Homo sapiens: one gene and its partners. The protein of the gene in region 4 purifies or fractionates together with the protein of the main gene of each other region. This does not show direct contact. Each region holds a gene or a part of one and is shown on either strand. Other genes may lie near its edges.

Region 1 (7,636 bases), on a different chromosome or scaffold from region 4:
GACTTAATTGCCTTTATTTTTTTTTAGTCCCGTCTCTCTCCCTCAAGTGTAGAGAGCATTTTTTGTTTGGTAGCCTCTATTTGGCACAATTTCTGGGCTACAGGAAAATTAGATAAAGATTTATTGAAGAGTTAATAAATTATTGAATTCACAATGCAACTGTTTGGGCTCTCAAGTTGACTGTCTGGGCTGCCCTTGGCACCTTGCCCCTGGCACTGAGGCCTTAGTCTCTTCAGCAGGCCCAGCACAAAGAGCAGCAGGTTGGGAACACAGCCCCATGGGAATTCTGTGCGCTCCTCATTGAGGCCCAGATGTTTCCCCATGATAAAGAGGGAGGGAAGCAGTGGGCCCCTGCAGCGCTGCCCTGAGCATGTGGATGCAGCATCCTTCTGTGCCCATATGTCCTTGTCCCTAAGGCCATCATCATCCTGGTTGCTTTAGATGCAAACCAAAGACAGGAAAGTGCATCAAGGCCTTGGTTCTGGTTTGCCAGGTGGGGTGGGGTGAGGCTCCAAAGTCTCCCCCTAGCTATTAACAACCTGCTCTTCAAAATTTCATTTCTGATGTGATCAGTCTGCTAATATTTTTGAGTAACTGCTTCGTGCAAGCCCAGAGCTATGCTTCTAATGAATGTCTATGAATGGATGATTACATTTCAGATAGACGTGGGAAATATTTACTGTATCAAATTTAAGAGGCGGCAGAAAGCAGCAATTATTTTCATTTTGAAATATTCCAAGGCTCTGCTCCTGTCTGAGTTGTCCTTTTAGAGCCCTTTTACCTTGTCTTTAAGTTAGAATTAATTAAAACCAAGGTTTTAATCTAAAGAGCCAGGACTTGCCAACTCCCATGACCATCTCTGGTTCTTTCACCTTTTTTTCTGCCTGCACAGCTGCCATCTGTCCCGGCAGGCCTGGGTTTAGCTGCTGCCTCCTCAAATTCCCCAGGCAAGGCCTCTGCAGGCAAACCAGGTTTCACTCTCCTGCTATGTCCCCTCTCCACCCGGCTCAGCACACCGTACCACAATCACATCGGCAAACTCTTGCTCCAAGAGTCTTTTCAGCTCCCCTCGGGTGAGCGCTGTGCAGTTGCCCTCCGTCCTTGCATAGCGCCTGAAGGCCTCGATGATCCCATTAATGTTTTGCAGTAACTGAGGCATCTTTGAAGTCAACCTGGAAAAGATGAAAAGTTCCCTTGGAGGCTCCATAATCAACCTCAGCTATTTCCTTTATAGCACGTCTGCTGCTAGGTCTTTCCTTGCACGTTCAGCTCTGTTTTTAGTTTTCCTTTGTCCTTTCCTACATAATGCATCTTATGTATGGGAAGGAGGAGCACACAGGATGGAGGCAGGTTCCTGAGTCAGGATTAAATGCTGGCCCCACCACTTAAGTATGGTGTGAGCTGGGACAAGTTGCTTTGCCTCTCCATGCCTCAGTTTACTACTCATTGTAATTGAAGGTGATATTAGTACTCTGTGGGATTATTGTGAAGATTTAAAGACATAATTCATAAAAAGCACTTGGCAGATGCCTGGCTTATATTAAGTGCTCCTTATTAAATATAATTATTATGCTATTATATACATATACACACATATAATTTTTGTACACCTATATAATCACTTTCCTGTACATCATCTCTTCTAATCCTTATTATTTCCACTTTTTTTTATAGGTGAGGAAACAGGCTCAGAGAAGTTAGGCCACACAATTTTTAAGGAGCCAAGAAATCCTAGGATCCATTTTTCCTTAACCCAAATGCAATGGGCTTTCTAGAATGTACCCTGTGGACAGGATTTATTTATTTATCACAAGGGTGTTAGGGTCCCATCGGGAACACCAAAAGGAAGTAAATACATCTGTGAGTCAACCCCTGTCTTGGATGGGAGCCAAGCAGAAATTCCAGGGACACAGCCCTCCCTTCTTGTTTTTTTTGGGAAAGTGGGAAGAAACTGGGCTACCACCTGCTGGGAATGCTCAGGAGGGGGGAACCTTCTTTGGGTGGGAGGCCTTCCAGTTCTGAGGGTCCAAGTTTCTCTGCATGTCGCCTCTGTCCACAGCCCTGAGACTTATCAGAGAAGTCAGCTTGCCCAACAGGCACGTGGCTCCATCAGGCCCAGATTTCTGGTGACCTATGAGTTGGTTCCTAATCAAAGGGAAAGCTTTTCTTTTTCATTAGCCAGAAATCTAGAGGTAGGTTGAGGTGAGGCCTGGGTTTGGTTGCATGAGCAAAAGGAAAAGAGACTTGAAGATTCATTAAGCAGAAGCCTTGGAGAGACCCAAAGGAGGAGATGGTATCAAAGATGACAAGTCTCAAATGCAAGGGGAGATGGAGCCTGTAGCAGCTGGAAAGCCAGAGAGAGGATGGGACGAGGCAGATATAGGTAGGAGAAGAAAGAGAAAAAAGGAAGGAAGGAGACTTGAGTTCTAGAAAAAGCAGATTAGTGTGGCCATGAGGACTCAGTAAGTCATAGCAAAAGGTGGGCTGTTCAGGAGAAACCCTTTCTAGGACCTGGTAACCAACAATTTCAGGCAAACTTTTCATCAAGGTAAAAAACTGGGGATGTTTTCCTCAACATAGATGAAAAATATCTTTCTTTTTTTTTAAAACCATGTAGCAGACTTTAACCACTGACCTTTAGATAATAAAATAATAAGATGACCTTTTAGTTACATTTTAGATTCCTTAGAAAAATCTACACATATTTTGCCTAAATATCACCCTGGTGTAGGAGAGGGGAATCATGTAAACCCCTTCATCCATGACACAGTTTGATCTTATTGTCTAGGTTGGCATAAGTAAACTGATTCTGATCCCATAGACTCTCAGCACTGCAAAGAAGCTTCCAGAGCCTTAGAAAAAAGAAACCTTTGCTGATCCAGGAAGGCACATGGGTGGCCCCATAGCCGCTGCCCACACAGTTTCCCAGTGAGAGGAGCTGCTCCCAGGCCAGCCTCAGGGAGGAGGAGAAAGCCTGATTGCTTCAGGAGAGCATGTTTCCCAACGGTAGCGTTGGTTTGCCCAGTGCTCACAGCTAGCTCTGAAGGATGCATAGTCCATACCTGACTGCCCCAGTTTTATGAGCTCAGATCACCAAGACACTGAGAATGAGAAAGAGGTTTCTTATGAGGGGACTTACCTAATGCCCAGGTGGGATGAAACAAGTGGCTGTTAAGTGGTGTGAGGAGTACCAGGTCAGTGTGATGAGAACCTTTTATAGGGGTTTTAACCAAGGCTCTTGTTTTAGACAGGATATCCTGCCCTATGGGAAGGCTTGATTCATCCAAGATCCAGCCCAGCCCAGCCACACCTCCTCTTGTCTCTGTTTTACCTGCTGATGTGTGACTGCCTTGGTCTAATTAACAGGCCCCTCCTACCACATTTGGTACCTTCTGTAGCTGAGTCCTCTTGACAGGGAAGCTTCTTTCCATTGTGATGGGCTCAGCAGTGCTTGGTACAGGCTGGGGTCCTGGTGAACATTCTTTGTCTCTATGAGCCTACAAAGTTATGGGACTCTTTCCTTTTTTTTTTTTTTTTTTTTTTGAGATGGAGTCCTGCTCTGTCGCCCAGGCTGGAGTGCAGTGGTGCGATCTTGGCTCACTGCAACCTCCGCCTCCTGGGTTCAAGCAATTCCCTGCCTCAGACTCCTGAGTAGCTGGGATTACAGGTGCCTGCCACCATGCCCAGTTAATTTTTGTATTTTTAGTAGAGACAGGGTTTCACCATGTTGAACAGGCTGATCTTGAACTCCTGACCTCATGATTCACCTGCCTCTGCCTCCCAAAGTGCTGGGATTATAGGTGTGAGCCACCGTGCCTGGCCACTGTTTCCTTTTTTAATATAAATGTTCAAGAATATATCTATTGAGGTTAACTTTTACAAAGTAGCCACTCTGAGAGGGCACACATGTTTTTGTGGTGATGTTACTTAGAACTGTTATTACTTAGAACATTTTTTGAATTCTTGTTTTGTAAGTGCCTTTCACACCTAGTGTATGAGACACAAGAAAGCCAGTTTCATCTCTTTAAAGTTGGTCTCATTTTTAATTAAAACAAAAAAAGTTAATACCTTCCCCACCCCATGCTATGGGTAGGTAGCATTTTGTAGCTGATGAGAAAAAAGGCTTACCATGATCATGTGGTAACTCCTCATTGCAAGGACAGGAAACTCAACTGGTGGCTAATCAGCAAATATTTATGGAAAGCTTGCTCCATTTCAGGCAGAGGGCTAAGGCCCTAGGAATACAGTGTTGAATACGATGGCAGCAGTTTCAACTCTCATGAAGTCTATAGCCTGGCCATCCCAGGGGTAAGTCCCCAAGAGGTTAATGATAATGGTATTGCCATTTCATTTCATTTGATTTTATTCCATTTTCATTACCATCTCATCTTATTTGATCTCCCTAGCAATCCTCTGAGGTGGTATGGCTAAGCCCAATTCATAAATGAGAACACTGAGAAATCCTCAGAGAAGTAGCCACTCTGTGAAGCGGAGACGGTGCTGGACTAGAGCCCCTCAGACTCCAGGCCTGTGTTCTCTCTGTTGCACCATGCTGCCATTTATTCTTCTCTCATTGAGTTTTGGCACCTTATGAACATCACACTTATCCTCAATGCATGAAGAACCATTCCTGAGGAGGAAGTTTTCTGAGCTCAGAAGCCAAGTCCCAAAGAGTGCTCTTGAGTGGCACTTTGCAGATAATATATACTGTGTAGCTTCCTGAGTGACTCTGGAAGGGAAAGCCATCTTTACCATCCTCACTTATAGATCAGCATGCAACAGACAGGAAAGGGAACAACAGGATAGGAAGGCATGGTAAGGGCCTTGGTTGAAGAGACTGGTGTATTGAGGGCAGCCCTGTAGCAACAGCACAGCCTCCAGCACTTCCCCTCAGGGCACAGAGCACTGGGGAGTTCCAGACTGCAGGAGGGCAGGATGCAGGCTTTGTGTTTGGAGAGATCTGTCTACATGGGGACAGGTTGGCTCCAGTCCTGGGGTGAAGGTGGGGTAGGCATACCAGCCAGGGAAAAGCAGAGTAGGGGCTTCAACCTTTGGGAGCAAGAGGGGGCTGAGGTTGCTTCTGCCTGATCAGAGTTAGAAGAAGGCCAGTATGAGAGGGTGAAGTTGGAGAACAAGAGGGAGAGCCGATTAGACCTTCTTCTGTGGTGGTGTTTGAAGCTTTTTCTGATGGGGCTTAGAACTTCCAGAAAGGTTTGGGAACTGAGGGTAAGTTAGGGAAGTAACAAGCCAGAGGCTGTATCTAGAAGATGAATATTTGGTAGGTATTATTAACCCAATTTATAGATGAAGAAACCAAGGCACAGAGAGTAAGTAAGTAAACTTAAGTAAACTACCTAAGGTCACATAGCTAGGAAGTTAGACCTGAATTTGAACTTAGGTCTGCCTGCCTCCAAAGCCTAATAGGTCTTTATGTGTGCCTGGGGCAGGACTGAGCTGTGAGGAGCTGGGGCACCATAGAAGTAGAGGTTAAAGAACTGTATGTGTGTGCTGGGCCAGTGGAGGTGGGTTGAAGTGTGCAGGTGGGGCTGGGGGAGATGAGTTGGCAGAGATTGGGACTGAGCCTGTAATTGACTGTGTAAGTTTGTTAGTTTATAAAGTTGGTGAGGAGATGTTATAAGTTAGTGTGCAAGTTGTCAGAATCAAAATGGAGTCACTTGTCTTCAAAAAAATCCTTGACAAATATAGAGCTAAGGAAGGCTGCGAAGAGAGAGTTCTCATGCTTGTACACCTGATAACACAACTATCACAAAAGACTGCAAAAACCACAACCTTACACAAAGGCCATAATAGCCTTACACAACAAACACTTCTGTGAGGACATCAGTCCAGCAGCTGCCTGTCCAACTTCATATTAGCATCACCATTGTTATTGATCTTTGTAGCCAAGAATACACATTTCAATAAAATTATGTAATTTTCATTGTTTTTCCTGTAAGAACTTTTGTTTTCCTTTACCTCCTGAATATGCACGTAGTTTACTATGGCACATGTATTCCCATTGCAATGCCCTATTCTCAAATAGGTAACTTTTTTTTTAAGAGAGATTCACTGTGGTTATTATTTAAGTTGACATTAGTGAGTCTACTTAGCAGTTACATTTTACGGGTATGCTGGAGGGCAGTGAGACCAGGTGCTGGATCAGCAACTCAGCAATGAAAACCCAGTTTTGCACTTTGACTCCTTCTTATACACTTACTCAACAATGTATTGCTGACCTCTACTTGATTTATTTCTACAAGATACAAGCAGTATTTGCCACACTTAGTGGGCTATAAATTAAGATTGCTTTCCAGAAAATTAGCCCAATTGGGCAAACAGGCTTTACACACCAAAAATAGTTATTTTAAAATGAAAAGTAGAAATTTTTAGAATGCTAACTAAAAAATATTGTCAAATATCACAAGGTCTGGGGTAAAGAATCACTGCTCAGGAATATGAGAGATCAGGGTCTATGTCAGCAACACCCCCTACCTGTGCTTGTTTTGGTTTGCTAGTTTTATTTTACTTTATTTTATTTGCTAAGTGCCTACTATGTACAGACACTGTGCTAAAAACTTACACATATCATTTTATTTAACCCTCACAACAACCCTATGGTAGCAAAGATATTATCCCAATTTCATAGATGAAGAAATTATCATTAACTAACTTAATTTTCCAAAGACAGAAAATAAATGGTAAAGGCAGGATTTGAACCCAAACCTGTTCAACTTCAGAGCCCAGCATCTTAACCTCTCTGCTTTGCATCTTGGCTGAAGTTTCTTATCTGAAGTCTGGAAAATTCCCTTTGACTTAAACCCAGCTCAACATGGTATGTTCCAGCTTAAACACTACGTGAACTAGCTATGGGACCACAGAGAGTAACAAACAGGGCAAGTTCTCAAATCCAGAGGCCCTGTGAGATGCCGGGGACAAAGCCCAAGGAAATAATCTCTCTTCATACTGACAGTTCTCCTTCTTCCCCCTTCCCCTTTGTTCAGTGGCAAAATCCAGAATGTTTGGCAAAAGCCTCTATAAGTTCAGCCAGGGGGAACAGCTGGGCTTTCATGCAGGTGGTGCTTTTCTTTGGGTTCCCTCCAGTCCTACATCATGATCGTTATCTCCTGACTGCCCCAAACAGCTATGTACTTACCACACACACACATACACACACTCGCGCGCGCATACACACACTCGCGCGCACGCGCGCGCGCACACACACACACACACACACACACACACATACACACACAGAGGCCGAGGCAGACTGCTCAGCAGGCTAAACTCCGTCTGTCTAATGAAGTGTCTCTTCCAGTGCAGCTTCATCAGTGTCTGCTGTCAGGTCCTGATTGGCTGGTGGATGAAGGGGACAGGGAGACACCATGGTAAGCTACATGGATCCTCTTGGGTCAGGTGGCAGGTAACTGTTAACCCTGACATGGCTGCCTTTAAATTTCTGCCATTACAAATGCAGCCAAAAACCCAACCCTTAAAGAATGCTGCTCACCAGACATCTTCACCTTCACCCAGGAGCACACAACGGTAATATGGGACAATGAATGGCTACAGGGTGGCCACTCACATCTCTCTCAAAAAGTAGCAGATGAGCAAATTCCATGATCTTGGTCTTTACCTT
Region 2 (7,777 bases), on a different chromosome or scaffold from region 4:
CACCTCCCCCGCCAGCCCGTTGTCCAGCACGCTGGCCGCATCCGTGCCGCTGGAGCCGTCCGGGGGCTGCAGGCCGCCGGGTGCGGGCGGGAGCAGGCGCTCGGGGGCGGCCTGGTGGACCAGCTTGTGCCACATGAGGTTCTCGATGAAGCCGAAGGTCTTGCCGCAGGCGTCGCAGCCGTATGGCTTCTCTGCCATGTGGACCTCCTTGTGACTCATGACGTGAAAGAGATCCGGGAAGTGCTCGCCGCAGTCCGAGCAGGCGTAGCTCAGCCCATCGGTGGGCCCTGCAGACGTGCCCGAGGCCCCGGGCCCACAGGCCCCCGGTGTGCCTTGGGTGGAGGGGAGGCCGGCTGCCCCGGCCAGGGCGCAGGGCAGCTGGAGCCGGTGCACCTGGCGGTGGCGGGTGAGGCTCTGCGGGTAGCCGAAGACCTTGCCGCAGAGCTCGCACTTGTAGGGCCGCTCGCGCGTGTGCACCACGTGATGCTTGCTCAAGTGGAAGGATTCGCGGAAGCGCTTCCCACACACGGGGCACTGGTGGGGCTTCTCGCCCGTGTGGATGCGCTCATGGCGCTTCAGGGTCTCGCGGCGCCCGAAGCCGCGCCCGCAGATGCCGCAGCAGAACGTCTTTCCTGGGACGCTGGCGCCCGAGCCTCCCGCCCCGCTGGTCCCCGCGCCGCCGAGCAGCAGCGGGTGGGCGCCCAGGAGCGGGACGGGCACAGCGCCGTACACCACCGCCGCCGCGGCCGCCGCCGCCTTCTCGCTGTCTGTGGTGGGAGGGTCGGGGGGCAGGAGGTACGGGCCCGGGGGGAAGGTGGGCGGGGGCTGCGGGGCCGAGGCCGCCCCGTCCTTGGGCGCCTCCGCAGCGGCAGCGGGCGGGGCGTGGGCGGCCTTGTGGCGGAGCAGGCTCTGCGGAGCCGAGTAGGACTTGCCGCACAGGTCGCAGGGGTACACGGGCCGAGGCCCCCCGGCGCCCGCCCCCGCGTGGGCCGCCTGGTGCTTGAGGAGGTAGGAGGCGTCGCGGAAGGCCTTCCCGCAGATGCCGCAGGGCAGGCGCAGGAGGTCGGCCGAGTGCGTCTTCACGTGGCGCTTCAGACTCTCCCTGCGGTTGAAGCTTTTGCTGCACACGGAGCAGGAGAAGGGCTTCTCGCCCGTGTGGATGATCTGGTGCTGGTGGAGGTGACTGGGCTTCTTGAAAACCTTCCAGCAGAGTGGGCAGGCGAACGGGCCATCGCCACCCCCGGTGGCAGGAGGGGGCACCCCAACACCAGCAGGGGCGGCGCTCCCGTCTGCGGAGGGGGCAGGCGCCACGGGCGTGGCTGGAGGGCCCGAGGACACCGTGGAGGGGGCGGCGGCGGTGGCGGCGCTGGCAGCGGGTGCTGGGAGGCCCAGCGGCGGGAGGTGGGGGCCGGGCTGGGGCGGGCCCCCCGCGGCCGGTGGCACGTCCTTGTGGCAGCGGCGGTGGCGGATGAGGCTGGACACGTGGTTGTAGGTGCGGCCGCAGACGCCGCATTCGTAGGGCCTCTCCCCCGAGTGCACCAGCATGTGCTGGACCAGGTGCGAGGACTGCTTGAAGGACTTCTGGCACACGCCGCAGGGGAAGCGCCGCTCCATCAGGTACTTCAGTCTCCGGAAGTAGCCCTTGTCGTCCTTGGTGGGGTCGCAGGCCGCCGCCGCGGGGGGTCCTGGCGGGGTCTGCGAGGGGGCAGGAAGCGGCCCTGGGGCCCCCGCGGGAGCGCCCAGCCCAGGCGTCACCCCCGGCCCGGACGCGGGCCCTCCTCGCTTCAGGTTCCCAAACAAGTGCTGGTGCCCCGAGAGGTCCACGATGCCCCACTGCGGAGTGGGGAAAGCAGCGTCAAAGAGGGGAGGAGGGGGCGCCCCGAAGGCGGGCGGCAGGGGCGGATCGGGCTTCTTGGCTTGGGAAGAGGAAGAGGACGAAGATGACGACGAGGAGGACGAAGAGGAGGAGGAGGAGGACGAGGACGAGGACGAGGAGGGCACCTCCGCCTTGGGCTTGAAGGTGGACTGGGGCGGGTAGTCATACTGCGGGGGAGGGGGCTGCGGCGGGGGCTGCGGCGGGGGGCCGGGGGCGCAGGGCAGGGCCGCCACCGCCTTGGCGTGTTCCCCATACAGTTCCATGGGCTCGAAGCGCTGGTGGTTGAGGAATTCCAGGAAGTCGAAGGGGTAGCTCTGGAAGTGCACCCCGTCCTCGCCCCCGATGCCGCTGCTCCCGCCACCCCCGGCGCCGCTGCCCGCTGGGTTCGCCTCCATCTCCGGCGGGTGGGAGACGGGAGACCCTGTGAAGAGGAGGACGGGGCTGAGGACACGGCCGCGGCGCTGGGTCTCCCCGCAGGTGAATGGAGCTGTGCGCCCACTCATCCATCCTTGTGCGGATCACCCCCTAGCCTTCCAGATTTAGGCTTCCAGTCCCTCTGCCTGTCCACCCCAAAGGGCAGCCCTTCCTCTTGGCTCCCTGGCCCCAGGACTCTCCTACTCACCTTCACCTTCCCTCTCTGTGTTCTCAACTCCCACCCACTCCCCACCTCTTTTCCTTCTCTAATTCCTTCCATCTCTCCCCATCTTTTCTGGGGTCCTGACACAGCTTTGTAGAGGGGACCCTCTCCTCCACACCACCTGCAGGCCCTCTATTATTTGTAGAAACGGGGTTTTGCTTTGTTGCCCAGGCTGGTCTGAAACTCCTGGACTCACGCCATCCTCCAGCCTCCACCTCCCAAAGTGCTGGGTGATTACAGATGTGAGCCAGCGCGCTGGCCTGGGCCGTCTCTACTTTCTCTCCTTTTCAGACTCCAATTGTCCAAGCATCCTGGGGGCCTCTGGACTCAGTTTTCTTTCCAAACCCTCTCAGACCCTCTGCTGTCTCTCCATACTCCTGCACCCTACCCCACCCACAGCCCTCCGTCCTCATCCCTTCAGGTTTTATCCTAAAATGAGCATAATGATAAGGGGAATCACAGTTTCTATCAGCGTAATTAGGAGGGAGGACTCTGGGGCCAGAATCAAATGTAAGCCCTGCCACTTCTAGCTGTGTGGCCACGGGCAAGTGACTGAACCTCTCTGTGCCTCCATTTCCTCATCTACACCTGGGGACCACAAAGCACATGCCTACCTCACAGGACTGTGAGGATTCAACACACACATATGTGCAAGGCTCTTAGGGGGCGGTTCCTGGCACTCTGTAAGCACTCCGTACATAGAAGGTATGGACTGGGCACAGTGGCTGACAGCTGTCATCCCAGCACTTTGGGAGGCTGAGGCAGGAGAGCTGCTTGAGCCCGGGAGGTGAAGGCTACAATGAGCTGTGATCACATCACTGTACTCCAGCCTGGGTGACAGAGCAAGACCTTGGCTCTAAAAACTAAAATTAAAAAATTGAAGATACGATACTGTTATCACTGTTACTACTAGTAGTAGAAATGGGGAAGTCAGGACAAGCCTAGAGAACTGAAAAAAGTCAGTATGGGGAGTGCACTCTTTTAATATTAATAGACAGTAGAAAGGAGAATTTGCTTGCCTGGGAGAAACAAATTCCAGCAAGGGGGCTGGCATATAGTCAGAAGGTGGTCTGATACAATCAAAACACAGACCCTGGGCTTGGACAGACCTGGGTTCAAATCCCATCTCCACTGGGATCCACACTTTCTCCATGTTTAAAATGGGGGAACCCCTATACCGCAGGGAGATTCAACAGGGTTGGAACAGAACATAATGAAACACATGCATCAGCAGAATGCATTCAACCCCCTGAGCTATTTGTACCATCCATGACATCACACACCTGGGCTAAGCCTAGCAACAGAAGCAGGGAGCTTGAGTTCCATCCTTGCCCTTAGTGGGGCTTCTCCTGACCCCCCCATGTCCTTGCCCTTAGTGGGGCTTCTCCTGACCCTCCACCCCCGGCATCATTCTCTGGCACCTCCTTTACACGACTTTTCATTCCAGATGGCAGGTATCCATGTGTGTACCCCACACCACACCAGACCCTCAGCACCCGTAACTGATCTCCGAGTTCTTGGTCTACTTGCTGGCCTGGGGAAGCACCTCCACCAAGTGGGCGGAGGGTGAGTCGGTGAAGGGCCCATGAGGTCTGACCCGCTTCCTGTCCATCATCCCTACCCGATGGGGGCCAGGCTCTAAGCCCAGCCCGCTATGGGGGTCAAGGGGGTTCCTACCAAGGCCTGGACCCTTTATCCTCTATCCATCGGGCTGCTCTCTCCTCCCACAGGTGAGGGGTGAGTGTCTCTTCCACCCCCACCCCAAACGCCATCCTGGAGTGAGATATTTTTAGTCTCCAGCTCCGGGTGTCCTTGTCCTTGGACAAGACTCAACATCCCATGCCCTTCACACCCCCTCCGTTTAATCTGATCTCCGGAAAGAGGACAGGCTTGGCTGGGGTGGTAATTGGAAGGCTGTAGGTGGAACCTAAGTTGGGGAGACAGCTCTGGAGGGGGCTGACTGGCCAGGGAGGCAAACACAGGCCATAAGGATGCAGGGAATAGGGGGTGATTTAGGGCGCTATGGGGAGGGAGGGCAAGAGTGTTTGGGGAAAGAAGCCCCTGACTAGCTTGTCTCCACTAGAGCACAGGTTAATCGTAGCTGTCACTGACTGGACATCTCCTAGAGGCCCGCCACGGTTCTAAGCACGTTACACATATTAATTCACTGACTCCCCACAACTCTAAATAGGGGCAGCTGTTCCCGCCGTTGGATAAATTAGAAAACTAAGGCATGGAGAGGCAAAGTGAGTTGCCATGGTCACGGAGTAGGAGTCTGGATCAATGGGCTTGAACCCCATTCCCACCCTTGCCCCCACAGCAGTGTTTCACTGGGCTGTTCCCCGAGTGAACAAAGGTGAGGGGAGAACTATCAGGATAAGAGCTTTATTTAGGGATGTCTTCTGGGTTATGAGGGGTGTCTATACAAGGGGCCTGGTGGGAGAGGGTGGTGGTTACTTTCTCTTCTGCCTACAGTGTTCTTCGCCAGATTTCAACAAGACTCCCTCTGGAGCCTCCTTGGGTCTCTACTCAGCACTCCCCACCCCATCACTCTCCAGTCCCTCATCCAGCCGCAGGTGTTTCATTATAGTTATTGCCACCAACTCATGTCATTCCTTTTCTGTGTGTTTACTGTTTGGCCCCTCTCTAGGAAAGCAAGGACTTGGCCTGTCTTGCTCGCCCCTGTGACCCCAGCACTTAGCGTAGCACTGGCCCAGTGTGGGTGCTTGACAAATATCTGCTGGTATGTGAAAAGGAAACACCACCTTCCTAAATTACCAATGGGTCCACAAAGAAATCATACATTAGAAAATGCTGGCCAGGTGCGGTGGCCCACACCTGTAATCCCGGCACTTTGGGAGGCCAAGGCAGGAGGATCACCTGAGGTTAGGAGTTCGACACCAGTCTGGCCTACATGGCGAAACCCCGTCTCTACTAAAAATACAAAAATTAGCCAGGCTTGGTGGTGGGCGCCTGTAATCCCAGCTACTTGGGAGGCTGAGGCAGGAGAATCGCTTGAACTCGGGAGGTGGAGGTTGCAGTGAGCTGAGATCGTGCCACTGCACTCCAGCCTGGGCAACAAGAGCGCGACTCCATCTCAAAAACACAAACAAACAAAAAGCAAAAAAACTGCTTAGCAATTAATGAAAATGAAAACACAACATACCAAAGCTGAGGAGGTGCAGCCAAAGCAATGCTCAGAGGGAAATGCACAGCTGTGAATGTCTATCTTGGTATTTGTGGAATGAACAAAGCGATGAGACTAAGCTGATCAAACTCCCAGAGGAACGGAGGGGGACATGTAGCAGAAATGGAGCTAAATGATCCCAGGAATTCCTGGGAGAAGCAATTCTGGGGACAGTGATGTTATGAGGAGGGCACTGAGGGCAGGGTGTGGAGATGCTGAAGGGGATACATCAGTGGTGGACAGAATTGATCAGGCTTATGATAATCTCCACTAGGAAACCAGAAACATTCCCTCTTTCATACAACTCAAGCCTAAACTGGTATCTTTTTAAGAGGGGATGTCATAGGAGGGTTTTATGCAGAGAGAAGCATGATGGGGAGGGACCCACCCCTCCACCACCACCACCAAGGGACAGGAGTCCCACAGCAAGTGTATTAACGGTTCACATTTATTGTTTGACCAGTTTGATATTTGTTATTGCCTGGAGGCAGCACAGTCCTGTACCATGACTGGGCCCATCTTATAAGTGGGGAAACTGAGGAGCAGCATGGGGAAGGCATTCCTCCAAGGTCATGTGGCCAATAAAGAGGAAAGCAGGTAACTGATTCCAGGTCTTTCTGATGCCAGACTGTGGGCCGTTCTGCTGCAACAACGCTGCCTTGTGATGAAATTCTGGTTTGTTAATAAAGAGTAACGTGCGCATATAACACTGGATGTGTGCTTTCTACCAGCCCAGCACTCTTGTAACTCTGATGTGTGTGAGCTCAACGAATCCTCCCAGTAACCCTAGAAGATGGTTACAAGCATTGACTCTGAAATACAAAGGAAGAGACTGAGGGCCAGAGAGATAAATTAAACTTCCAAAGTCAGGCCAGGCATGGTGGCTCATGCCTGTAATGCCAGCACTTTGGGAGGCCGAGGTGGGTGGATCAACTATAGTCAGGAGTTCGAGACTAGCCTGGCCAATATATAGTGAAACCCCGTCTCTACTAAAAATAAAAAAATTAGCCGGGTGTGGTGGTGCACACCTGTAGTTCCAGCTAGTGGGGAAGCTGAGGCAGGATAATTGCTTGAACCCAGGACACAGAGGTTGCAGTGAGCTCACGCCACTGCACTCCAGCCTGGGTGACAGAGTGAGACTCTGTTTCTCAAAAACAAACAAACAAACTTCTAAAGTCACATTGTTAACTAGTGGCAGGGCCAGTGGTTGAAGAAAGGCAGCAAGGCTCCAGAGTCCCATCACATGCTGTCTTTCGGTATTTCTCCCTCCAAAATGAAGGAGGACCCCCGCCCCCAATCCCACTTCATACTGGAAACATGCATTGCTCCACCCATCTCCCTGCCAACAAATCCCAAGTCTCTTGGCTTGACCCAAGACCAGAACAAGTCACCAACATTTGTTGACCTCTAACAAGCATTGTACTTAGGTGCCTTATGTGGCTTGTTTCATTCAAACTTCACAACAAATGTGTTATTATTATTCCCATTTTACTGACAGGAGGACTATAACCAAAGCATGTCTATCCTCGGTCCCAAACCAAACAGTAACCCCATCTCATTCAAAAGCCACAGTCCTGACTGGGCACGGTGGCTCACGCCTGTAATCCCAGCATTTTTGGAGGCCAAGGCAGGCGGATCACCTGAGGTCGGGAGTTTGAGACCAGCCTGACCAACATGGAGAAACCCCATCTCTACTAAAAATACAAAATTAGCTGGGCGTGGTGGCACATGCCTGTAATCCCAGCTACTCGGGAGGCTGAGGCAGGAGAATCACTTGAACCCGGGAGGCGGAGGTTGCAGCGAGCTAAGATCACACCACTGCACTCCAGCCTGGGCAACAAGAGCGAAACTCCTTTTCAAAAAAAAAAAAAAAAAAAGCCACAGTCCTTACAATGACCTCCACAGTCTCCTGGCTGCTCTTCCCATGTGCCCACTCTATTCCTGCTGCAGGGCCTTTGCGCTGGCTGTTGCTGTTGCCTGTAATATTCTGACTCTCAGGCAACCATCTCGCTCACCCCTTCACCTCCTCCCCATCTTTGGTCAACTGTCTTCTCAATGAGCCTCTCAGTAACCAATG
Region 3 (7,072 bases), on a different chromosome or scaffold from region 4:
CCCTGTTCTTAAAGGGCTCTACTGGGAAGCCAGTAATGCAATTAGGAAATGGGACGAGAAGAAATCTTAGAGCTACTGGATCTTCTTCTGTTTGTCTGTGTAGCAATATATGTGTTGTGTGTGATGTCTGTAACGAGGACCAATTGATTGCCTTAAATAAAAATAAGCACTTAAATCAAATATTTTAGAGGAAAGTTAAAACCGTAATGCCTTTTAGTTTATGTGTTTTTAAACTCTAAGAAATAAAAACTGTTTTAAAGATCAAATTGGAAAATGCAAATATCATCAATATGTAAATAGCAGGTTTAAATCACATAAATTAGATAAAAGGCTTGCTAAATATTTCAAGGTTGTAGGCTGCCTACTTTACAACTTGGTAAGGCCTGGGGACATATGAAATTAACCATGCCCTAACTAGAATGGAAAAAGTCAGACTTTATCTGCATCTAGTACATAATTAAAACAACTTACCAGGTTTACATTAAAGTTAAAAATTGCTAAGATTGACCATAAAAATATGTAAATAAGACAACTAAAAATAAATTTACATGCAAGGTGTGTAGGAACACTTAAATGTGTTTGTGGTAAAAGATTATAAAAAGGCATAAAAATGTAAATGTTGCCTATGGAAAAAGGATTCTTTTGAAACCTATGTAAGGGTAAAATTTGGCTTTCCTTCCCTTGTACAGATTTTTCATGTAATAGAGAAGAATAATGAAATATTTGGTTTGCCTTGTTGGTAGAATGCCAAGGAGAGAAAAGAGTAGACAGGAGACAAACTGTTTGGAAAGCTAAGTCTTACCTCTTAATGAGTAAAGATTGTTGCCTAGTTTTAAAATTTTTGAGTCATCCTTTTGCCAAAATAAATAACTTATGTGTAACCTGGAATTGTATTTCATACTATCAAGTGTCTTAAACCTCTTTTTACTAATTAGAGCTTTTATTTAAAATTAATGATATGTAACTATTACTGTATATGTAAGAAAAGAAACACACTTAGCTATTGCTTTGCGGATTTGCATTTAATTTTAAATTTTACAATTTAGATTCAGCATGAATTGCAATAAATGGATCTTCAGCAGAGTTACTAATAGAAAAATGAGCTTTGCCATCATCAGAAACGTAGATTTTAATGCCTGTGCAGTTGCCATTAATTTTATCTCCAGAAATGACATCACAGTATGTGCCAGCAGGAAGACCAGTTTGCAAAGTTAAAGAAAATGTCCTGTAAAATAAAATTTCAGATTTAACTTCAAAACAATGAAATCAAGAATACAGACTAACACAAATAAACAGCATAACTTTATGTTTTAGAACCCTAAGCAGTGAAGTCTCATTAAGAAGAAAACCCATATGCCTCCCTAGTAGGTGTAAACAGCTTTCTAGGACCAAAAGTAACCTTACAGAAAACCTACCAATTTCCTTTTCAGTAGTGAAAATATAACCGAAAAATCAAAGTTGAAGAATATCACCGAAGATTGGCGGGAGCGGTCACATTTTGATAAAGTGCTACCTTGGTAAAATCAAATTTTTTCTCAACTGAACTTAATGCCAATTACTTTAAAAATTTAAAGGGTATTATTTTTTTAACCTTCTTTTATTCTACATGAGGTCAAAAAGAATTTAGGGTGTACATAAAAACAATCTAGCATTTGTATGAGGAAGTGATAGTTTGAAATATAAAGCTTTTTCACAAAAGATTTTTTTGGTATTTTCATCCACAAAAGAAGGAAACTAAGGAAATAGACACGCATTTTTTTGGCAGGAAAGAGATCAACTTGACTTATATATTTTTGTATTTATTTATTTTTCATAAGTGAAGTATAATTTATACTAGAGTGAGCTAAGTATGAGTGTCAGTTGGCCTTGGACAGAGACAATTCAACTGTTTGCAAGGAGGTCTTCTCAGCTACAGTTTCGGGAATCATTTATACTACAGCCAAAGGATACAAAAATCACAGATGAAAGGCCAATAATGAGAAGTTTCAGAACTAAAACTCAAGTCTCCTGAAGCAAATCATTAACCACAAGATACATATTATTTATCCATATGCTTTAAAAATGTTATTTGTCACAAGGAGACAGAGAAGTGAAGAAAGTATACCAAAAAACTAGGTAGAGCTGTCATTGAGAAAAAGAGAAATAAAGATATTTTAGTACTGAGGCAGCATTTTTCCATGATTAAAAGAGCAGGACTATAAGAAACGTTCTTTTAATGATTTCACAATCCTTCTATTAATTACTTTGTGTATTTTGTGGCATGTGTAGGTAAGCATATGAATGTGCATTCTATATATGCATAAGATATTGCAAGGGTGCACAGAAAGGATTCTGCTTACAACAGAAAGCCCTTATGAAAACAGGAGAACGAAGGAGTAACAGCCATCATCCTTTTGCTTCTACCCAATTTTGATCTCTATTGTCTTCTCGCTCCACTGACTACATGATTTTTCAGATATGATAAATGTCAATGAACAGAAAAAAAAAAGAATAAACCAAGAACATACTGGTACAAAATATTATTTTTAATTGATATTTACTTACCAGTCATCATTGTTGAAAACAATGAATCCTCTGTTTCCTCTCCCAAAAGCCACTTGGTTGCTCCCATTATCATACCAGTTTGTAAAAGGCTGGCCATCCACTACATTGCGGAAATTAACCATGTTCCTAAAAACACAATACCATATAAAACGTTGATATTCTTAAACTTCAACTGTTTTAAATAAAGTGCTACGGAAATTTACTATTAGAGGACATGTCTAAATACATATTCTCACCTTATTTGGCGCCATCGATGTTCACAGACCCAGTCATTGCCACAAGTAGTGTCTGGATTAATAGTAACTTCTTTAGTTACTCCATTATCATTTGGTGGCCCAACCCAATCATTAACATCCTTAATTACAGGAGGAAAAGCCAAATTTTAGCATATATATATTTATCTCTTCCTTCTCCTTTAAACCAAACCCAACCTATCCTGTTACTTGTGTCTCTGCATTCAGTGACTTTATCTAGAATCCAATGCCTTCATTGATTTTTATAGCCCTTTACTGGGTCTTCATCATCTCTCTATCCTCTGGTTCTCTTTTGCCATATTTCAAACAAAGGTAGCAAATTGTTATCCTCTCCTTTTCATTCCAAGGCACTGCAAAGACTTCTTTGCTCTGTCACCCAGGCTGGAGTACAGTGGCATGATCGTAGCTCACTGCAGCCTTGATCTCCGAGGCTCAAGCGAACCTCCCATCTCAGCCTCCCAAGTAGCTAAGACTGTTGGTGTGCACCACCGCACCCAGCTAATTTTTTTTTTTTTTTTAATTTTCAGTAGAGGCAAGGTCTTGCTAGCTTGCCCAGATAGGTCTTGAACTCCTCAGGTCAGCTGACCTTCTCAGCTGGCCGCACACAGTGCTGGGATTATAGGTGTGAGCCACTGCACCTGGCCTGCAAGGGCTTCTTAACATCACTGTAAGCCATGCAATGGCATTGAAATGGGAAGGGCATTAGTACTAGAAACACCAGGATTAAAACATAGGCTCTATTACTAGTAGCTGAGAAAATTTAATCAATATAAATAATTTCTCTGTGTCTCAGTTTCCTCATTTGTAAAATGAGAATAATGAGTTCTTTTGCTATAAAAATTAAGTAATATATGTGAAAATGCCTTGAACATGACATATGCTAAATAAATATTGGAGGCCGTCATGCTTCTTTTTAGATAAATGTACAAAATACTACATCTGAACATTTTTTTTTATAAATTGACCATATTTTTAGTATTATGCTTTTCTGATTGGCACTTTAAGAAATCTTCATTAAAAAACACAGAGTAACCCTAGGAAGTTTATCAGTGTTCACCTTAAAATCACGTCATATGGTGAAAAGTGAACAAAACTTAAGAGTTTATAGCATGCAGCAGTCCTGTCAAAGTGGGAATGTTATAGTAATAGAAAAAATAAAAGAACTCTCTGACTCCTAACAACAGAAATAAGACCAATTAGTAGAAATTATAAGAAGTTGTCTCAATATAAAAGTACACCTTCTAAATATTAAAGCTGTTTAACAATAGAATCAGTTGTTATACATAGTAGCGGACTTCTCAAACTGAAAGGAATCTAAAAAAAGCTAGCTAGATATCTGTGTGACTCATAGGAAGGAGGAATTTCTGCTTTAGTTCTGAAGTCTCTGATGCTGTTTCTCAACCCTTTAGTTTAAAAGAAAACCTTCTACTAGCTTTCCAAATATCTTTACACTCTTATTTCTCTGTTCCTTTTTGAAACTACTCAGCAGAGTGATGTCTTTACCATACTCCCAAATATTTTTCTCATTCTTACCTTTCTTGGAATACTCTCTATAAATTTCTATCCTTTAGTACATACAATTTCCTTCCTCTTATAGTATACTTTCCCTATTTAACTCAGCTGAACTGGATCATTTGTTTCTATACCATATAACTTTTTAACAGTATTTAAAAGACATTTATATTGTTCTCACTACGGGCAGATGATGTTTTAAGTTCTCTACAAGGGTTGGCATCTATATTCTTCCAATTAAACCTGAGGAAGGTACGAAGTATATATTTTAATCCCTGTGCCTAGCTCTTATTTTTAAGTGGTTTTTTTAATTTTTATTTTTATTTTCCCTGCGGGCTAGGGGGATGTTTGTCATATCTCTGAAAAAGCTTGCTATTCTTTTTCAATGGAGAATATAAAGTTTATTCCTTTAATATAACCTGCATTACTAAATCACAACCCTGTATCAGGTTTACAATAATTAAATATTTGTTGAATAAATAAACACTTAATAGTTGTCATATTAAATTAGGAGAAGATTGCCTCTTTTTTCTTGAGAAAAGGATATTTTGAACAACTCCAAAACTTACTTTTCCATTTTCAAAATATCTTGGCCAACGGTAGCTTGACATTACTCGTGTAAATCCATAAGGATGAGCAAGCATAAATCCAACTGCCATTTTGTACAGCCTGAAAGTTACATAATTATATTATCATAGAATATCACAATATTCATACCATCATTAAAAGAGGTGTTAAAAAATAGAGAACTTGGTTTTCTACCTAGCATCCCAGAAGGTAAGTATAGAGGCTCCTCCAGCGCCATGTCCTCGTTGATTGTCATGGTTATCCACAAAGACAAGCGCTCTGTCAGAAGGCATGAAACCCCAACCTTCTCCCCAGTTCCTATTTTTGAAACATAAGATATACGTTGATGTATCATTTCACAATAGTTTGAGAGTAACTCTACTGTGCATCTCTTTCTGTAAGGCATGGCATCTGAAGATTAAATTCTTTCTCTAATTAGATGGTTACTCTGTAAGATATATATATATACACACACACACACAAACACACACTCACATATATATACACACACACCTCATAAACAAACACACGTGTGTAATCTACATATATATAGTCCATATTTGTATATACATGTATGGAATACTTATATTCATATTACAAATATAAAATGTTTGTTATTAAAAAATTTCCTTTCAGAGGTTTCAGCACATTATCATTTAGAGGCACTCCAGAAGGATCAATATCCACATCACATTATACAGAATGTCAAACTAGATTAAAATAAGGCTTTAATATTGTATTGTTATAATATAAATCATTTTACATTTCCAATTCGTATAAGTAAATACAATAGCATGGACACTTTGTACATACTTTATAAATGATAGGATCATTTTAATAATAACCTGGCTTTAAAAGATTATATGCAAACATCAGTCAAATCCAGTATATTCATCTTGTACGCAGACAGAAACTCCTAGGGTAAGTTTAGCGTTCCTAGGCATACTGTCTTGTGACAGACACTCTAAATACAAAAGATGATTGATTAGAGTTTAGGGCACTAGAATACTTATCATTAACAACTGACTCCTTAATAGTTGTCTGAATAAGAATGTTCCAGAAGATAACTCGCACTGGGGTAGTATGACTAACAGATCTATGAAATAGTTCAGGGGAAAAGTTGTATTTATTTACTTTAAGTAAGACATCTTCTCTCCATTCCACTTGCGAATAACTGTGCCGAGTTTTGCACCATACTTGAATTCTGTCACCCGGCCATTACCAAAGTAGTCACTGCTTTTAATTGGCTCACCACCCAGATCAATTACCTAGAAGAAATTTAGGAAAAAAAAACATTTTGCATAAGGACTTTAAAGCATTTTAACCGATAAGTTTATATTATATAAAAATTAGCTTTCAGCTATTTCTGAGTTATTTTAGACTTGTTGTGCTTTGTTCTTTAGAGACAGGGTCTTGCTATATCGTCCAGGATGGTCCCAAACTCCAGGCCTCAAGGAATTCTCCTGCCTCAGCCTCCCAAAGTGCTGAGTTACATGCAAGAGCCACCACGCCTGGTCCTATTTGTTATATGAAACGCTCAAAATCGTTTTCTTATTCTTATTATCTTCATCGGTAATATTCTTATATTCTTTTTTTGATAAAGTATACACTACAATATTGAAAGAAACATAATGTCAAAGTTACCTGTTGTCCTGTGAGAATACTTACCTAATTTTTAGTCTTGTACATCAATGATAATAATAACAGCTCACAGGAATACGATATTTACTATCTGACTGACTTTTTTTGATAAATATTAACTCATTTCATTTTCCAAAGAAAATAAAGACATAACTATTATCAGTATCCTACATTCTGTGTACCTCCATAAAACCTGTTGTGATAAAGAATTAGATATGCTGTATGTGAAGAAGAGGAGGTTAAAGAACACTGTTTTAAGGAAATGACTCAGTCTTTATCCTACAGAAATTGCATTTTTAATTGAATCTGCCGTGAATTTTCTAATGAATAGGATGATATTTTATATGCCTATATGTATTGACGTACCTCCTGGTAAATGAAAGGTTTACTACCTTCCGGGAACCAGTTACTGTTTAGATTATGCAGTTTGTCCAAAATTGCCTTTATGTCTCCAGGCCACATGTGCTTGGAAGCATCAATTCTGAACCCTGCAACACCAATGTCAATGAGATGGTTCATATATTCGGCAATCTTAGAACGCACATAATCCTTCC
Region 4 (7,777 bases):
AAGGTCACATGGCTGATTTTCCCAGTTCTAGTCCAATGTTCTTTCCAGTCTACCATGCAGGGTCTGCTTTCCAACAACTGCTTAAACAAATGCACTCTGTAGCTCATCAAAGAACAATATTAGTTTGAAAAATAAAGACAGCCACTTCCTATTGTAGTGCATTTTTTTTTTGTTTCCATGATAGATATGTCAGTCAGCTGGATTCGTCTGATTATTTTCCAACTGTTCCTTCTACTTCTGGACTTCTAAGCTGTCTAAACACAGTAGCTGCTACCCATAATTTAACATAATTTAACACGTAAAATAATTTTCACAAAAAGTTTAATGCATCAATGTGATGTGGAATTATATATGTATTTGTGTGTTTGCCTCTGTGTGTGTGTGTACATACGAGTTTGGCATTATATCAACACATATTTGTGTGTTTTGAAGGAATTGATATTTTCTTAGATGATGCCAGTGGCATCCAAAAACAGTTTAATAATTAAAGGTTAATTTTCCTCCAGGGAAATTCCCAGTGGGATTCTGTGAAACTTCAGTTGACAAACTCAATGTGCATTTCAAACATGATATGATATGTGTTTCATATCATGTTTGATTATGTTAAGACTCTTGAGCATGTTTTCATTATCTCTTTGCTTTTCTTCCTTGAAAAAATATATCTTGGGGCCAGGAGCGGTGGCTCACGCCTGTAATCCCAGCACTTTGGGAGGCCGAGGCAGACGGATCACGAGGTCAGGAGATCGAGACCATCCTGGCTAACATGGTGAAACCCCATCTCTACTAAAAATACAAAAAATTAGCCGGACAAGGTGGCAGGCGCCTGTAGTCCCAGCTACTTGGGAGGCTGAGGCAGAAAAATGGTGTGAACCCGGGAGGCAGAGCTTTCAGTGAGCCGAGATGGCGCCACTGCACTCCAGCCTGGGTGACAGAGTGAGACTCTGTCTCAAAAAAAAAAAAAAAAAAAATCTATCTATCTATATCTTGTGTGAAAAATTTTAATTTAGTTACTAATAAAATTTTATACAAATACAGGACTCTCATGGCCAAACAACTGCCCTCATAATAGGGCTTATCACCCTCTTTAGGATTCCTACATATACAAGATTATTACTAACATGACCTAATATTTATTAATTCACTCATTATCAATTAATTCAATATCAAGTACTTGTGCAAGGATAAATAACATGTGCAAGATTATAGGAATAATTCAGTGGCAGCATTGTGATCTACATTTTTTTTGTTCTGGGGCTAGGTGATTCATTCTTTTTAAGAATTACACAAAGCTGAACTTGACTGTCAGCAAACATTATAGCCAAAATTTTGGCCAAAAATATGGGCTCCAGTTTTTTTTTTTCCTTTTATATATTTTGTAAGAACTATTAGACATTTTTAATAGTATTTTCTGTCAGGATGGCCATAAAGGACCTCCCTAAGCCATGAAGGCATAATCTGTTCTCCCTCTGCTTCAGGAGTGAACTGAACTCAACCATCTGGCATTGGTTTAGTCGGATTCTCTTTCTGTGATGGCAAGGCCAGTCCAAGCCACCCTGGAAGAATGAGTGATTTTGTCCCCTTTAAAGGATGGTTCTTTAAAACGTTGTCCACCTGGGTGAGCTCTGTGATGGGAGGGCAGAGGGAGGCTCCCTGGTGGCTGTGTTGGCTGTGCTTTAATTTCTCCTCTACTGTCACTAGTCATTCAGCTTTGGCTCCAAAGTTGTTACCTCAAACCCACCCACTTGCCAAAATCAATACTCACTTCTTTAGATTAAGTAGGTAGTTTAAAACCCTCCTTTGTGACTTAAATTTTCTCTTTGATGAGAAGGGGAAGGAGAAGTCATGTGGGGGTTTCCAATGACTTCATAAAACCATTCCTTCCAACATAACCCACTGTCTTTGAGAGGAGTTCTGATAAAGATAGTTTTCTCCATCCTGTTAAATGCCCCCCATTCTTTGGTGGCTCTATAGCTTAGCACCATGGGCTGCTGCCCAGCCAGCCTGGCCTCAAGCCAGCCCTAGGTCGGGGAGTCCACCATGTTCATCAGGAAGGAGAGAAGGAGAGTCAATGGACTGTCTCTTCCCTCATCGAACTCATGAAAAGGGTCTAGCCAATGAGGTACTCAGGGCCAAACTCACAAAGATCAGTGCAAGTGCTGCAACTTGTAACAACTTTGCTCTGTAAGTGTCTTGAGCTCCACTTACAGGAGGGGGCTATAAAAATAGCCTCCTTGGGTTTTTCATATATATTGGTTTACGCACCCATGGTATGGTGAAGATTATGTTAAGATACAGAAAGCCCAGATTCTGATTCCAGCTTTGTTAATTAACTTGGTGTGCAGCATTCAGGAAGTCACTGGGCATTGGCCTCACGGTGCTCCCTCAGCCCCATGCTGATAGTCTATAATTGGCAGTAGTGGGTATCGGGAATTACTTAAATAGCTAGGTCTTGGGGGTTCCTCCTCCACTTATTTTCTTAACTGTATTTGGAAAACTTTATTACTCTTTGAGATTCTCACTCTCAATTACTAATTCATCCAACAAATTTTTAATGAGAACTTACTATGTGCCAGAAACTGTAAACCAAAGAGACAAAATTTCATATTCTCCTGTAGCTTGCATTCTATTCCACTTTTTTCCCAAGGAATAGTGATTTACACTAGAAATGACTAGAAGTTAGGCAATTTTTCATTAGCTTTGCTACCAGCGAGCTAATTTATCACTGAAACTATTCTTTCAGGGGTTTTTCAAGTTTTCCTTAGTTCAACTTTTGGGGAAAAATATTTTAAACAAATGCACTTTGTGTCAGCTCAGATATTGCTAAAACTATCTTCAGAAAACTAACTTTTAACATAAATCTTAAAAACAAACACCTCTATCAAGATTGTCATAGCAATTTTGCTTTTCCAGTAAAAATTTTAACCCATTAATGATATGCAGTGTTTTAAAGGAAGTAAAATGCTCCCAGTCCTAATTACAAGCATCCAGTTTCATTTTGCATGAGCCTAAGGATCACAGAATTCTTTTTTTTTTTTTTTGAGACCGAGTCTTGCTCTGTCCCCCAGGCTGGAGTGCAGTGGCGTGATTTTGGCTCACTGCAACCTCTGCCTCCCGGGTTCAAATAATTCTCCTGCCTCAGCCTCCCTAGTAGCTGGGATTACAGGCACCTGCCACCATGCCTGGCTAATTTTTGTATTTTTACAGAGACGAGGTTTCGCCATGTTAGCCAGGCTGGTCTCAAACTCCTGACCTCAGGTGATCCGCCTGCCTCGGCCTCCCAAAGTGCCTGGATTACAAGCGTGAGCCACTGCACCCGGCCCACAGAACTCTTTTTATACTACTATGGTGCTCAATTGTGTGCCTGAGTTTTTGTTCAGACACTGTCTCCAAATCATACAACACTCAAATGAGGGAAAGTGGGAACTATAGTGTTTGTTCCCTCAGCATCTGAGGGGGACTGCTTTCAGGACACCCTCTTGGATACCAAAATCTGCAAATGCTCAAGTCCCTTACAAAAAATGGTATAAATTTGCATATGCTCTGAATCATCTCTGTATTACTTATAATATCTAATACAATGTCAATGCTGTGTACATAGTTGTTATACCATATTGTTTAGGGAATAATGACAAAATAAAGTGTACATGTTCAGTACAGACACAACCATTCATTTTTTTTCAAATATTTTCAATCTGCAGTTGGTTGAAGCCATGATGTAAAATCCATGGATGTGGAGGGCCAACTGTGTTTAACTTAATGAGTCTCTTTAAAGAATTAGATGAATCTAACAGCTGGAGTCCAGAGGTTCAATGTCCTTTTTCTCACCGTCAATGATCATTTATTGATTGATGCTAGGCATTGTAAGAGGATATATTGCTACTAAGAATGGCTATTTAGTAAGTGCTAGGCATTGGCCTAAGCACTTTAAATACCTTATCTATTAATACTTACCAACCATCAATGAAGCAACTCATTTTACATATGGAGAACCAGAAACTTAGAGAGGTTAAGTAACTTTTCCAAAGTCATGCAACTACTGAATGACAGGTTGGCATTGGGACCAGATTGTCAGATGCCCAAGCCCATTCAGGCTAACAATAGGTTCTCTCTCTGTTGTAAGCTAACAGGCTAACCGGGAAGATCAGTCAAAACACGTAAAATGATTCAAGAACTAATGAACTGAGTAATGTGTTACTACTGTCTCTAAGGACAAAAGGAGGTCAGAGAGAAGAAGAACATTTGGTTGAAGTCAGAGAAGGTAGTTCCTGAGCTGGCAGATTCAATTCCACTCAGAAAGCTTTGGTTGAACATTTATTTGAATGATTGATACTGTCAGAGATACAAATCGGAACAAAATATGCCCCTTCTCTGAAAGTGTTTTTAACTCCTTGAAGAAGAAAGTTAGTACACAGAATCTTATGATACAGGACACAATGGGCAAGTGCTAAATTGCCACAAACCTTGGAGCAAGGAAATACATAGGCTCAGAATTGAGGGAAAACTCGTGAGAGCCGTGGCTTTTGAGCGAGGTGCTGAAACTGGAGTAAGACAAGTAGGTAAAGCTCAGAGGTAAGATGGGAGAGCACGAAGAGGAAGTAGAGAGCAAAGGAAGGGCCACGCGGCGCAGTTTATAAAGCCTGCTCCAGAGGCGAGGCAAGGCTGGAAATAGGTGTAGGGCTGCACCTGGACATCTCGGAATGCTAATCTAAGGAGCGCAGAATCCATTCTTTACAGTGAGGAACCTCCTGTGACTCTTCAGCCTGACAGTAGCAGTGATGAAAGGCGGGAAGCGGGGTTGATGACCGAGGCAGTGCTGTGGTGAGGGGTGGGGAGGGTCTGCATGGTGGTGAAGGAGGTGGTGGGCACCAAGACAAAGAGAGGACGATGGGGGACTGCGTGAGACCTTGCAAAGGAAGATGCAGTAACTCAGCTTAGAAGTGCTGAGTATCCATCGTGTGCTAGGCCCCGGGATATCAAGGAATTAGGAGATGCCCTCGGGAGATCCAGGTGTAGCTGGGGAAGGAAACAGATAAAGAAGTTCAGCGGGATGTGGGAATGAATATGGTAGTGATGTGCACTGAGGGCTGGAGTCTGATCGGGTAGCCGCTGGGAGATGGGACAGGGAAGCACACACTTGCCTTGAGGTTCAAATTAGATAACGTACATCATTTGGAAATCGTTTACCAATAAGTCGTTATTGGGATCTATATTCTGGATGTGTTAGATTTGAAATATACAACCTCTATCAAGGTGTGACATCGGGAATAATATTTTTAACATTGTTCACAAGTACCTAGTATAGTGCTACGCCGTTGGAAGCCTGGGATCACAAGCTGTGCTTTTGGGCAATTAAATACAACAACCTATTCACTCATTCATTCAACAAATACTGATGGAGGGGCTCCAGTGGGCCTTGGGGTATAGACAAGAAACAGGGACTTGGGTCCATCCACACAGTGCAGTTGAGTGGGAAGTCAAAACCAACACGTGAGAAACGGTGGATGCCTTGGTACCAAAGTCATGCACCGTATCTTGGGTGAACGAATAGAACAATACTGCTTGCACTTTTACAGCATTCTACTGGTGGAAAAGTATTTTACAGACGCGATTCTCTTAACCCTTTCAGCAAAACTGCCCAGTGAGTCCCCGGCCCTGGCCCCGCCTCGCACGCGCTGGTGCTACAGCTGTGGTGCAGACGCCCTTCCGCTGCGAGGGTGCGGCCGTCTCGGGGCGAGTGCTTCCCGGCCTGCAGGAGGCGAACTCGGGCTTCCCCGGGAGGCGTCCGTGGGAACGCGCACCTGCGAGTCCCTGCCGGCTGAGGAGCCGAGGTCTGCGACCTCTGCCGACCTGAGCTCAGGCGCAGCAGCGCAGACCTGGCCGCCGTATCCCCTCTGGCTGGGATGCGGGCCCACGCGGGAAAGGCTGAAAGGTGGGGAACACCCCGGCGGAAAGGAACCCTCCCTCTCTGCTCTGAAGGAAAGTTTCCCAACACAGCCATGTTCTTGGTGGTCTCCGGTCCCCCATCCCCAAGCCCCCAGTCAGCCTCACACTCATCCGCTTCAGTAGCCGCGGAGTGGGGGCCTCCAAAGAACCCAGCTGCAGAGCAAGTCCGGCTGACGCAGTGTGCGCTGGGGGCGGGGCTCTGGACGGGGGCGGAGCCACGGCGAGAGCCGCGGTGAGGGCGGGGCCCGGGTGGGCGGTGCCCTGAGCGGGGCTCCTAGTGGGCGGGGCTCTGGGGTGGCGGCCGTTGCCGGGCTACGGGAGAGCGCGGAGCCCTGCGCTGGGAGGTGCACGGTGTGCACGCTGGACTGGACCCCCATGCAACCCCGCGCCCTGCGCCTTAACCAGGACTGCTCCGCGCGCCCCTGAGCCTCGGGCTCCGGCCCGGACCTGCAGCCTCCCAGGTGGCTGGGAAGGTAGGTGCGTCGCTGTCCCCGGCGCGCGGCGTCCCGCGAGGTCTTCAGCCCTCGCCCTGGTGGATCCCCGCTGGGTGGGAGCCGGGAGTGGAGGCGGCCGCCCTAGGGAGGGAGGAGCGCAGGCGGGGGCTGCTCACGGGCGGAGTACTGCGCGGCGAAGGGAACCCCCGAAGGGGCTGACCGGGTCTCGGGGCCGTGACAGGCGGCGAGGCGGTGGGAGGGGAGCGTGTGAATTCACGCCGGGTCCCCGCGGGCGACGCGAGCGACGCGACCTGGACTCCTATCCGGGATATTGTAAATAGATCTGCTTGTGAGGCTCACGACTGGGAGCCTGTCACTCTGCCCAAGCCCGACCCGGCCCCGGCGCCCGCCCGCGTCCTGCGGAGGTCCCCTGAGCCAGCGCGCGGCTGCAGGGGTCTCGGGGCCGCATCCCGGACCAGCGCCAGCGGCGGGAGAGCGTTGTCTGTGAGCGGCCCAGGGTATATTCCTTCTGTGGGAAAGAGTTCCTTAGAGTTCAGCAGGAATTATTAGTATATTGATGAGTAGAGCCTGTGATAGATTTAGAGAGTGAGAAAGCCAGCTCTTACAATGCGTGTAATGCCATCTCATGGGACAGAAATTTGGCTAATATACTCCTGGAGATCAAGTTTGGCGGATCAAAATTCTGTGATCTGTTTTGATGGTAGTGCACTAGTCATCCAGTCTCCGTTCACTATTGTAAGAAACCCATGTCATTTGTTTGCATGTTAATAAAGGACTCAATATGCATACAAAATCATCACCATTGTTCAGTGTTTCTTTTAACTGAAACAGTTTAACCCAAGATATGTATGAAGACGTAGTTTTTACCCCATGACAGTTTCTTTGACTACAAAACCAAACAATTTCTTTATGTAAACAGGAAACAGTTATTGTTAAACATACCTCATGCAAACGATATTTCTTAGTGTTGTCATTTCATGATCAGATATTAGATGCAAAAGGGAGGATTACATTGCGTTACTTCAGGATTTACTCAGTACCTTTTCTGTGGTGCAGTTTCACCTTAGGCGTTTTTGCCAACACTGCTTTCATGTAGTCTTAAAAATTCCAGGCAGTGCTTATTATCTAATTGAAAGGTATAGAACTGGAGGGGTGAGAATTGAGTCCTAGTGTGGAAGACAATTTTTGACATTCACAGAGATGTGAGTACTTAAAAAGAAAGCTTCTTTGCATAACACTTATCAAATTGTTCTGAAAGTAAAACAAAACATAGAAATGCATTTTCATTTGCACAATATAGCCTTGGCATCAATGCATGAAGCATTATCATGAGCTCTGTTCTTTACTTTTTAATCTATGAAAATGTCTTACCATATCTA

What was found.
Region 1: the proteins of TNFRSF19 (region 4) and CRNN purify together in Homo sapiens (affinity purification with mass spectrometry; 2 studies listed by BioGRID and IntAct, with this or other methods). This does not show direct contact.
Region 2: the proteins of TNFRSF19 (region 4) and ZNF865 purify together in Homo sapiens (affinity purification with mass spectrometry; 2 studies listed by BioGRID and IntAct, with this or other methods). This does not show direct contact.
Region 3: the proteins of TNFRSF19 (region 4) and AMY1C purify together in Homo sapiens (affinity purification with mass spectrometry, with the first as the bait; 2 studies listed by BioGRID). This does not show direct contact.

Annotation. Positions count from the first base shown.
Region 1 is NC_000001.11:152,411,075-152,418,710, forward strand, and holds the start of CRNN (cornulin), read right to left. Parts: upstream 3,190-7,636; 5' UTR 3,140-3,189; intron 1,173-3,139; 5' UTR 1,160-1,172; coding exon 1,022-1,159; intron 1-1,021. UniProt on the Homo sapiens protein: Promotes cell proliferation, G1/S cell cycle progression and induces expression of the cell cycle regulator CCND1. Regulates proliferation induced by pro-inflammatory cytokine response via activation of NFKB1 and PI3K/AKT signaling pathways.
Region 2 is NC_000019.10:55,608,113-55,615,889, reverse strand, and holds part of ZNF865 (zinc finger protein 865), read right to left. Parts: intron 2,298-7,777; 5' UTR 2,272-2,297; coding exon 1-2,271. UniProt on the Homo sapiens protein: May be involved in transcriptional regulation.
Region 3 is NC_000001.11:103,752,622-103,759,693, reverse strand, and holds the end of AMY1C (alpha-amylase 1C precursor), read right to left. Parts: coding exon 6,885-7,072; intron 6,146-6,884; coding exon 6,012-6,145; intron 5,196-6,011; coding exon 5,073-5,195; intron 4,980-5,072; coding exon 4,880-4,979; intron 2,900-4,879; coding exon 2,781-2,899; intron 2,671-2,780; coding exon 2,545-2,670; intron 1,226-2,544; coding exon 1,036-1,225; 3' UTR 1,002-1,035; downstream 1-1,001. UniProt on the Homo sapiens protein: Calcium-binding enzyme that initiates starch digestion in the oral cavity.
Region 4 is NC_000013.11:23,573,114-23,580,890, forward strand, and holds part of TNFRSF19 (tumor necrosis factor receptor superfamily member 19 isoform 2 precursor), read left to right. Parts: intron 1-6,246; exon of another isoform or gene 6,247-6,416; intron 6,417-7,777. UniProt on the Homo sapiens protein: Can mediate activation of JNK and NF-kappa-B. May promote caspase-independent cell death.